2 separate regions of the Homo sapiens genome follow, and region 2 is linked to region 1. Evidence: fine-mapped expression QTL. A gene starts in region 1. The other region holds a variant in brackets. All regions are shown on one strand. Distances are between the middles of the regions.

Evidence for each region.
Region 2: its variant is fine-mapped to the expression of DDX59 in vagina (GTEx, PIP 0.97).

The regions. Positions count from the first base shown.
Region 1 is chr1:200,667,461-200,672,845 of GRCh38, forward strand. It overlaps DDX59 (DEAD-box helicase 59), which reads right to left and starts at 2,447. Exons shown (of 8, transcript NM_001031725.6): 1 at 2,307-2,447. DDX59-AS1 (DDX59 antisense RNA 1) reads left to right here and starts at 2,047. Exons shown (of 3, transcript NR_110787.1): 1 at 2,047-2,162. RefSeq lists a silencer at 1,861-2,600.
Region 2 is chr1:200,700,713-200,706,097 of GRCh38, forward strand. No RefSeq gene overlaps it. Among named protein-coding and RNA genes, the nearest start is that of DDX59, 33 kb to the left of the region's middle. The variant G/GA (reference allele first, on the strand shown) is at 2,864.

The DNA of each region.
Region 1 (5,385 bases):
ATTCGCCAGCTTCCACTGATGAAGAGATGGAGTCCTCTTCCTCACACATAGCAGTGTTGTAACACTGCACACTGCTCAACATAGCCTTGTACACATGGTCTATTTCCGTTTACTGATTATTTGCACTTTGAAGTATCAGATATTATAGAAATTCTGGGGTAAATCCTTCTATTATAGCATCAAAAAAGAAAACAGGAGAAATACTTCACAATTAGAATCTTTAAAATCAAAGCCACAAATCATAGAGAAAATGCTATTTTCATAAGTAACACTTAGTGTTTATTATATGCCAAGCACAGTGCTTCACCTAATCTTCACAACCATGTAAAGCAGTTAGCATTGCCTAATATATATATATACAGATATTTTTTCATTATGCTATACTAGGTATATTACATAGAGTAATATACACAAGACTAATATACATAGTATAGCATAATGAAAAAATAATATAGTAATATACATAACATAGCATAATGAAAAAACGTGTGTGTGTGTATAAAACACATTATATACACTCAGAAGAAACTGAGCCACTTAGAAATTAAGTGGTTTGGGCTGGGCGCAGTGGCTCACGCCTGTAATCCTAGCACTTTGGGAGGCCGAGGCGGGCGGATCACGAGGTCAGGAGATCAAGACCATCCTGGCTAACACGGTGAAACCCCGTCTCTATTAAAACAAAACAAAACAAAAAAAATTAGCCGGGCGTTGGCGGCAGGCGCCTGTAGTCCCAGCTACTCGGGAGGCTGAGGCAGGAGAATGGCGTGAACCCGGGAAGCGGAGCTTGCAGTGAGCCCAGATCGCGCCACTGCACTCCAGCCTGGGCAACAGAGCAAGACTCCGTCTCAAAAAAAAAAAAAAAGAAAAGAAATTAAGTGGTTTGTCCAAGCTCACACAATTCTTAAGTGTTACAACCCTGGCACTGTGGATCCAGAGCACAAGCTCTCAACCATACGAGGACTAAGCTCTAATTTTTTATCTTACCCAAATTCCTTTCTAAGGGGTCTGGAGAGTCATGCCCTACAAACCATAAATTCTCATCAGATGGGTTTTATTTAACCCTGTATATCGTGACTTACTTTCCAATCTGACTCTGGCCTAACAAGGAAGAAAATAAAAATGTTTTACCCCAAAATATATTTCCTTGTCGTACCTTAAAACTCCCCTGCAAAGTCTCTTGCAGGAAAAATCTGCATTTGGTGAGAATTCCCATCTCCCCTTGTTTTCCCTCCTTCCTTCCCAGATCCAGGAGATAATCAACTAAGAGCCAGGCACCCTTTTAAGTCCAATATAAAACAATTTACAACCTGCTCTCTCTAAAGTCTATCTAAGAGCTTCCTCTGCACAATAAAACTTGGTCTCCACAATCCTTTATCTCTAGCCTGAACATTCCTTTTTATGGATCCCAGGTCTTTAGATAACCTCAACCAGATAACGTTTACATTTACCGATTGAGTTGCCCCGCCTTTCTAAACTAAACCAATGTATTTCTTAAATGTATTTGATGTCTCACGCCTTCCTAAAATAGATAAAACCAAGCTGTACCCCAATTTCCTTGGGCACATGTTCTCAGGACCTCCTGAGGACTGTCACTGGCCATGGTCACTTGAATCTGGCTCAAAATAAATCTCTTCAAATATTTTTCAGAGTTTGATTCTTTTCATCAACCCATATCTATACCTTTTTACACCAAAAACATGTCTTTGCAAAATTACAGTTATTGGGAATAAGGCTTTTAACCTAATCTGGGGACTATCAAATATACTAATAAATATTTTTCTTAAAAAAATTCTTTGTTTAAACTGCCAGATTCCAACTTCCAGAAAAATTCCAACAGAAATGCAACCGAGGGTCTAGAATTACTATCCTAAATCTCCGAAAATGTACAGGGGGTGGCGGGCGGGGCAGGGACGGCTCTAGGTGAGCAGGAAAAAGCTTGGAACTCAGTCTTCCAATGGCGAAAGGGAACGTGCTCCTGCTGGGCGGGACGGCGGACGGCTGGCGGCGGCGCGGCCTCCAATTCTCGCCAACGCGCCCCGCACCCCCGTGCACTGGCGGGCCCTCCCCTCGGGCGTTGCCTCCCACCCACGCCCGGCGGCACCGCACCCCGAGGCGCTTCACGTCACGGAGCTGCTAGGAGACGGGCGGGGCTCCGGTTCCGGGTAGAGGCCTGGGACACGGGGAACTGTAAGGATGGGAGGAAGGCCGCGCAGGGGCACCAGTTCTGCCGCCGCGGCCTAGCGCCCCAGGTCCCGGAGAAGGGGCACCAGGGCGGCCAGGGGCCCAAGCTTCCGGGGCACGCTCACCCGCGCAGGACTGAGGCCGCGTCCGCTCCCGCTCCCGCTCGGGCCGTCTCCCCCTTCCAGGCTCCAGGCCAGGCTTCCGCCCGACAAGCCCTGACCCGCTCGTCAGGACTGCGGCCCGGGGTTGGTGGTGCGGAGCGGAGCGGAGCGGAGCGTAGAGTAGAATCCACTTCCCCGGGTTTTGGGAGGGGGCCGCAGCCCGCTTTCCGGGCGGCGGGGAGGCGGGGCCACCGCGGGGGCGGAGCTCGGCTGGGAGCCGGCAGTGGCTTGGGAGGGAGGGAGGGAGAAGGAGAGGGGCGGGAAGGCTCCTCGCGTTTTCCACGCCCCCGCCCAGCTCTGGGCTGGTGGTAAATCTCGGAACTGGTCCGGGCTGGGCGAGTTCTGGACGGAGGGGCACGTTTGGGAATCCTCTTGGAAGAATTTACGTAATCGAATGGGCTGGGACTGGTGGAAAAGAGTTGGACCGTCCGGAAAGAAGCAGGAGGGCGGCGCGGGGGCCTGGCACCCTTAGAAAGTGGGAAGTGTGAGTGTAAAAGGGAGGGGCACTTCTGCCCGTTGGGCCCAAAAACCCTTTTCTGGCTTTAGCTAGTAGAGCCACTCAAAATTTAAACGGAGTCAGCTTGATGTGGCATATATGATAAGCTGGATAATATTTCCTGCACCACCGCACCCCTCCCCCCACCCCAACACCAACAAGAAAATAACACAAGTCACGGTTCTTGTTCCTTGTGGGCTGACATTTCCCTGTTTTGCCAACCTCTGGAGCCACGTGTCCCAAGCAGCTTGTAGTTGAGAAGTGATGGGGGAGAGGAGACAGCACGGGAGAGGAAGGAGGGAAGCCAGCTTATATTCAGGTGCCTTAAGTATTTAAAAATATTTTCAGTGTAATAGTCGATGCATTCAAAAGAGCATATTTACCAAATATGTAAAATTTAAAGTATGCTAATGAAACTATCACTCCACCACGTTATCAGTATTTAGCATGTATCTATGCATCTCCAGGATTCTACTCCTGGCCTCTTAGCTCACCACCACTATCTTCAGTTTTGTCCCTCTTTGCCATTTTTAGTGGTTTTATCATATTTGGATGCATTCCTGTGTATTGGTGTATTTTTCTTCTTTTTGAGCTTTATAAAAATACATATAGCCTGGAATTCGCTTTTTATCACTCAACATTTGTTTTTTTGGTTCATCCAAGTTGTTACGTGTAGTAACAGAACATTTATTTCTTACTGCCTAGTCAAAAGGAAGTTTTCTCCTGTCAGGAATGTATTCAATACTGTAGCGGATAGGATTATAAATGCACTTTAAGTATTTTCTTTATTGATGGGAACCACACAGACTAAATGTATCAGACTTCCCAAGTTCGTAGGTCACATACCTATAACAGAACTCTTTTCCTGGGTTTTGTGACATTTCTAATTGTTGTAATTTCTTTTGCCATTATAAAAATTAGTCACTTTTGAACCTAATTTGTATTCATCATTCTGAATCTTTTTCTTTAAAAGCCTCCTCTTTTCCAATTATATAAGCTCATACCCCATAAAACCTGAATCTGCCCCTAGTAATTACTAATAAGGCTAGTAGGAGCATTCTTGTTCACCTTCTGTGCATGCGCTGGACTCTAATTTGAACCTAGGATTAGCACTGCGGCATCAGAGGCTATGGGGGCTGTTCAGCTTTCAAAGATAAAGCAGAAATGTTTTCAAAGTGGTTGTACCAATCTATACTGCCACCAGTACCGACCACAATTCTCTCTAAATCCTCGTTATTTTCACACTTCTTACTTTTTGCTAGTCTACCCAGAATAAATACCATGTTTTTGTCTTAATTTGCATTCCGTAATTACTGATAAGGCTGAGCACTTTGAAATATGTTATTCATTCATGTTTTCTCTTCCTCTTCTAAGGATGTGTGTGTGTGTACATATATAAATGTATATATAATGTATATATGTATATATAATGAAACATTCTTTTGTTAATTGTAGGTGTTGCAGATATCTTCTCCCTGTTTATAGTGTGTTTTCAAATAAAAAAATTTTTTGACTTATTTTGAAAAAATCAACCTTATCAAAAAGTTTCAGAATTAATGAACTCCTGTATACCCTTCACATAAGTTCACAGTTTGCTATATTTGCTATATTAGTGTGTAGGAGAGATTATATATATAAAATATGTATACTATAGATATATATTTTTTTCTGAACCATTTAGGAGTAAGTTGTAGCATGTGTCTCCAAAGACAATGATATTCTCTTTTATACTCACAGAAAAATGTTCCAGTTGAGGTTGTTTGTTTTTTGAGACAAGGTCTCACTCTGTTACCCAGGCTGGAGTGCAGTGGTGCGATCTCGGCTCATTGCAACCACCTCCCGGGCTCAAGTGAGGCTCCCACCTCAGCATCCCGAGTAGCTAGGACTACAGGCACACCCCACCTGTTAGAGAGAATTTTTTTGTTGTTAGAGATGGGGTTTTGCCATGTTGCCCACGGTGGTCTCCAACTGCTAGGCTCAAGCTATCCACTTGCCTTGGCCTCCGAAAGTGCTGGGATTACAGGTATGAGCCACTGGGCCTGGCTCAAATTTAGGTAGTTTAACATTGATGAAGTAAGAGTAGCTAGGACTACAGGCACACCCCACCTGTTAGAGAGAATTTTTTTGTTGTTAGAGATGGGGTTTTGCCATGTTGCCCACGGGGGTCTCCAACTGCTAGGCTCAAGCTATCCACCTGCCTTGGCCTCCGAAAGTGCTGGGATTACAGGTATGAGCCACTGGGCCTGGCTCAAATTTAGGTAGTTTAACATTGATGAAGTACGAGTAGCTAACATGCAGTCCTTATTGAAAATTTACTAGTTGTTCCATTAAGGTGTTTTAGAGCTATTTTTTTCCCCTAATCCAGGATTCAGTCCAAGATCTTTTCATTTTCTTTATGAAGTGTTTTTTTTTCTCTGTTTTTTTTTTTTTTTTTTTTTGAGACGGAGTCTCTCTCTGTCGCCCAGGCTGGAGTGCAGTGGGGCGATCTCGGCTCACTGCAAGCTCCGCCTCCCGGGTTCACACCATTCTCCTGCCTCAGCCTCCTGC
Region 2 (5,385 bases), 33 kb after region 1:
TTTTCAGAATTGGACAAATAAAGCAGACAAAAAATTAAGGAAATGTAGAAAAAATGCATTAATATGCAGATTTAATAAACATACATAGAGCCTTATATCCCTCAGAAAGAGCACATACATCCTTTAATCCATAAAATAAATAAAAGGGAGACCTAAAGTAAAAACATGTAGCAATATATTTGCTAGCATTTTTTTTTTAGTTCATTCTGTATGGCAGGTGCCTAAGCACTTTACATGTAACAATTTATTTAATTCTCACAACAACCCATGAAGTAGGATTACATTAACCACTTGGAAATAACGAAACATATCAACACATGCTAGCTTATCTTTGGTCTAAAGAGGGAATAAAAACTGAAATTATAACTGGGAGTGGATATTCATCAAAGTGCACTAATACAGGTATACTGGAGTTAATGGCTAACATCCATTCAACTGGTAGGTTCCTGCACAAAACACTGGTTGTTAAACATTTTTAATATAACCCCTATTATAAACTATCTAAAGAACTTTGAAGAGAATACTTCATAAAAATAGCTTGCACTTTATACAAAAATTACATCAAAATGGATTTCAGACTTAAACATAAAATTTAAAACTATAAACCTTTTTGTAAAAAAGTAGGAGAAAATCTAGGGAATTTAGGGCTAGACAAAGTTCTTATACTTGACACCAAAAGCATGAATCATGAAAGGAAGAATTAATCAATTGGACCTCATCAAAATTTAAAACTTTTGCTCTGCCAAAGCCCATGTGAAGAGGATGAAAAGATAAACTACAGATTGGGAGAAAATATTTTCAAATCACAGATCCGACAAAAGATTAGCATCTAGAATATATAAAGATCCTTTTGAACACAACAGTAAAACACCCAAGCAACTCAGTTAGAAAATGTGCAAAGACATGAACGAACATTTCACTGAAGAGGCTCTGTATAGCAACTAAGCACATGAAAACATGCTCAACATCATTAGCCATCGGGAAATGCAAGCTAAAACCACGATGGGATTTAACTACAAACCGGTCAAATAAAATTTAATAAATTAAATAAAATGAATATAAAATAAAATAAAATAAAATTTAATCAAAGCTGGAACAATTCGAGCAACAAAATAAAGTAGTATTGAATTATAGTAAAATAGTGAAAACACCAAATGCTGGCAAGGATATGGAGAAATTGGACCACTCATATTTTGCTGGTGGGAACGTAAAAGGGTACAACCACTCTGGAAAACAGTTTGGTAGTTTCTTATAAAACTAAACAAGCAATTTACCATACCACCCGGCCATTGCATTCTTGGGCATCTATCCCAGAGACATGAACATTTATATTAACACAAAAACCTACACATAAATATTTATAGCATTTTTATTCCTAGTGGCCCCAAAACTGGAAGCAGCCCACATGTCTTTCAGCAGGTGAATGATTAAACAGACTGTGGTATATGTTCATTGTAGCATTATTCACAGTAGCCAAGATCAACCTAAGTGTTTACTGATAGATGAATGGATAAAGAAAATGTGGTATATACACAGAGTGGAATACTGTTCACCCATCAAAACGTTGGAAATCCTGTCATTTGCAACAACATAGATGAATCTGAAGGACATTAGGTTAAGTGAAATGAGCCAGATACAGAAAGACGGATACCACAGGATCTCACTTACATGTGGAATCTAACAAAGTTGAACTCATTGAAGTGGAGAGTAGAATGGTCGTTTCCAGGGCTAAAGGGGTGGGGGAGATTGGGGAGATGTTGGTCAAAATATACAGAAGTTCATTTAGACAGGAGGGATAAGGTTTCAAGAGACTGTACAACACGGTGACTATAGTTAATAATATATATTGTATACTTGAAAATTGCTGCATAGATTTTAAGTGTTCTTGCCCCCCAAAAATGTGTCTGTGAGATAATACATATGTTAAGTAGCTCAATTTAGTCATTACACAATGTATAGATATTTCAAAATATCATATTATACATACAAATATATACTTTTTATTTGTCAATTTAAAAATGTTTAAAGTTGTGGTGTATACACACTATGGACTAATACTCAGTAATAAAAATGAACAAACTATTGATAGATACAATAATTTGGATTAGTCGTCAGGGAATTATGCTGAGGGAAGAAAAGCCAAACCCAAAAGGATACGTACTATATAAGTCCATTTATATGACATTTCTGAAATGAAAAAAATTAAGAAATAAAGAACAGTTTAGCAGTTGCCAGGGGTTAAGGACAGGGGTAGGGAGGTTGGTGTCATAAACGAGCAACATGAAAAATTACTGGGGTGGTGAAACTTCAGTATCTCGACTATGATGGTGGATACACATGGAATAATATTATACAGAACTAAATATACACACACACACACACACAGGCATACACAAAAATCAATACAAGTAAGGAAAACTGGGAAAGCCTGAATAAAATTGGTGGATTGTACAATGTCAATATCCTGGTTCTGATATCGTCCTGTAGTTTTCCATAATGTTACCACTGGGGAAATTGGGCAAAGGGTACAAGGCATCTCTCTGTATTTTTACTTATAACTGCATGTTAATCTATGATTATCTCATTACAATTTCAATTAGAAATAGATAGCTTCTAAGTTTTTATTTTTATTTATTTTTTTGAGACAAGGTCTCACTCTTGTTGCCCAGGCTGGTCTCAAACTCCTGAGCTCAAGCCATCCTTCCACCTCAGCGGGACTTTCCCAAAGTGCTGGAATTACAGGCATGAGCCACCGTGCCTGGCCTGAACTTTTAAAATATTTCAAAGGGCATGAAAAATGAGAGAAATAAATGCCATCTGTTATTGAAGACATGTAGCTATAGGTGGACTGTCTATCCATCTG[G/GA]AAAAAAAATACAGTCAGACCCTGTGTCTTATTATGCAAATTATACCACATAAATAGAAGAAGAGATCATTAGCTTCATCTTTTATATATGTTTGTACCATGTAATTTTACTTGTTATTGCAAGCATGGGTTACTGCTGTAATGTTCAAAAAATCAAATGGAGAATTTTTTTAAGCCAAGCCCAAGTTTTTCCCTTCAATACGTCAAATGTTTACCACAATCTGCATGGAGTGCACATATCAGAGGAATATGCTAAATGTCCATTTTGGAGACAGTATACAGTCACATATTGGCTTAAAAAATTACTTTAGGCTGGGCATGGTGGCTCAAGTCTGTAATCCCAGCACTTTGGGAGGTCGAGGCAGGTGGATCACCTGAGGTCAGGAGTTCAAGACCAGCCTGGGCAACATGGTGAAACCCCGTTTCTACTAATAATACAAAAATTAGCCAAGCATGGTGGCACATGCCTGTAACCTCAGCTACTCCGGAGGTAGGAGAATCCCTTGAACCTGGGAGGCGGAGGTTGCAGTGAGCCGAGATTGCACCATTGCACTCCAGCCTGGGGCAACAAGAGCAAAACTCCATCTCAAAAAACATAACACAGAAAGAAAATAATACTCAAATTTAGGTGCACAAATATGTATTTAAGTTCATCTTGAAAGAATATTAGATAGCGACTGAAAAAATAAAGCAAAGCAATGCTCCCTAATGCAAAGCAAGAAAGAGACTGACTCAGTGTGGATGGGAATATGATGCTGCCTGTAACACACAGCAGCGACTATTCAGGCCTGTGGGCACTACCTGTATTAACTCAGGCAGCCACAGCACCAGGCAGAGCCAAACTCATCATTTAAGACAGTTTGCTGAGGCCTGTAGGAAGACCACCAGGGCCTTAGGCAAATTGTAAAACAGAAAAATTTAAGTGTATTCCCTTTCCTTATGTCTTCCCCTTCCTCAGACTCCCATTGCCCATGTCATTGGATGTGGAAAGAGATTTTCTTGTCTGAAAATTTCAGCACCAGCCTCAAAGCTGTGGATGACAGGTGACAAATGCCCCTGTGTTCAAAAGAGAGATGTTAGATACATTCATGCAAGACTTACTAAAAGGTGACCAAACCGATCTTTGTTTTTTGTTTTTTGAGACATGGTCTCGCTTTGTCACCCAGGCTGGAGTGCAGTGGCCACATCACGGCTCACTGCAGCCTCAACCTTCTGGACTCAGTGGATCATCCCACCTCAGCCTCCCAAGTAGCTGGGACTACAGGCACGCACCACCATGCCTGGCTAATTTTTGTTTCTTTATTTATTCATTTTGCAGAGACTGGTCTTGCTTTGTTGCCCAGGTTGGTTTTGAACTCCCAACTTCAAGTGATCCTCCCACCTTGGCCTCCCAAATGTTTGGGCTTACAGGCATGAGCCACCACACTGGGCTCCTGATCTTTAATAATCACTACTATTACCCATCTCCAAGTTGGTAAGAAAAGGGGAGATTTATTAATGAGCTTCTTGGTAGTAAGAGAATTCGTATAATTAGAATGCCTTATTAACATGCTTCCTCTCCCACCAGCAAGTCAAAAGAAGCAGTTCCACTTGGAAGGGATCCAAATGATCTACTTTAGAGATCGGCGCTATCTACAGGAGAGGAGACTGGCATCTCATTTTTCCATCTGGAAGCTGGATGTCTTGCTGCCACAGTGAAATACAGGAGCATTTTGGGGAGAAAATGTCTTCAGGAAATTGTGTTATACAAGATAAAAGTAGAGACTAGTGGCTTAACTCTCCCCTCATAGGGTGGGGGCCTAGCTAGAGTTGCCCATGGCATCAGACAAGATTGTCTAACAAGCCAGCCCAGATTCTTAAGAATCACTCCTTCCTCTGAGTTCCATATTGCTGATTGGCAATGAAATAAAATATTCTGTCTCTGTAAGCACCCTCAGATCACAAAACCTAATTTTCAGTTGAAAAATGTGGTCACCCTACATCTAGTCTTTCTCATTTATGTCACCATTTATTTTAATGTTTATACCCTACATGTCACTACAAATTCCTTGACAGCAGGGTTATTCTTCTTATTATTTGTCTCATTATATCCCCAGACTTAGCATGCAGTCGATTCTAGGTAAATATTTGTTGCTGGTGTTTATGTTGCTGATAATTCAGTTCTTTCTTTTCTGCAGTCCTTCTCACCTTCTTCCTGGGGACCTCTCCCTAATACTTATTGCCCTTATGTTAACTTCCTTTTTCTTTTTTTTTTTTTTTTTTTGAGATGGAGTCTCGCTGTGTCGCCCAGGTTGGAGTGCAGTGGTGTGATCTCAGCTCACTGCAAACTTCGCTTCACAGGTTCAAGCAATTCTCCTGCCTCAGCCTCCTGAGTAGCTGGGATTACAGGCGCCCACCACCACGCCCGGCTAATTTTTATATTTTTAGTACAGACAGCGTTTCACCATGTTGATCAGGCTGGTCTTGAACCCCTGACTCGTGATCCACCCGCCTCGGCCTCCCAAAGTGCTGGGATTACAGGC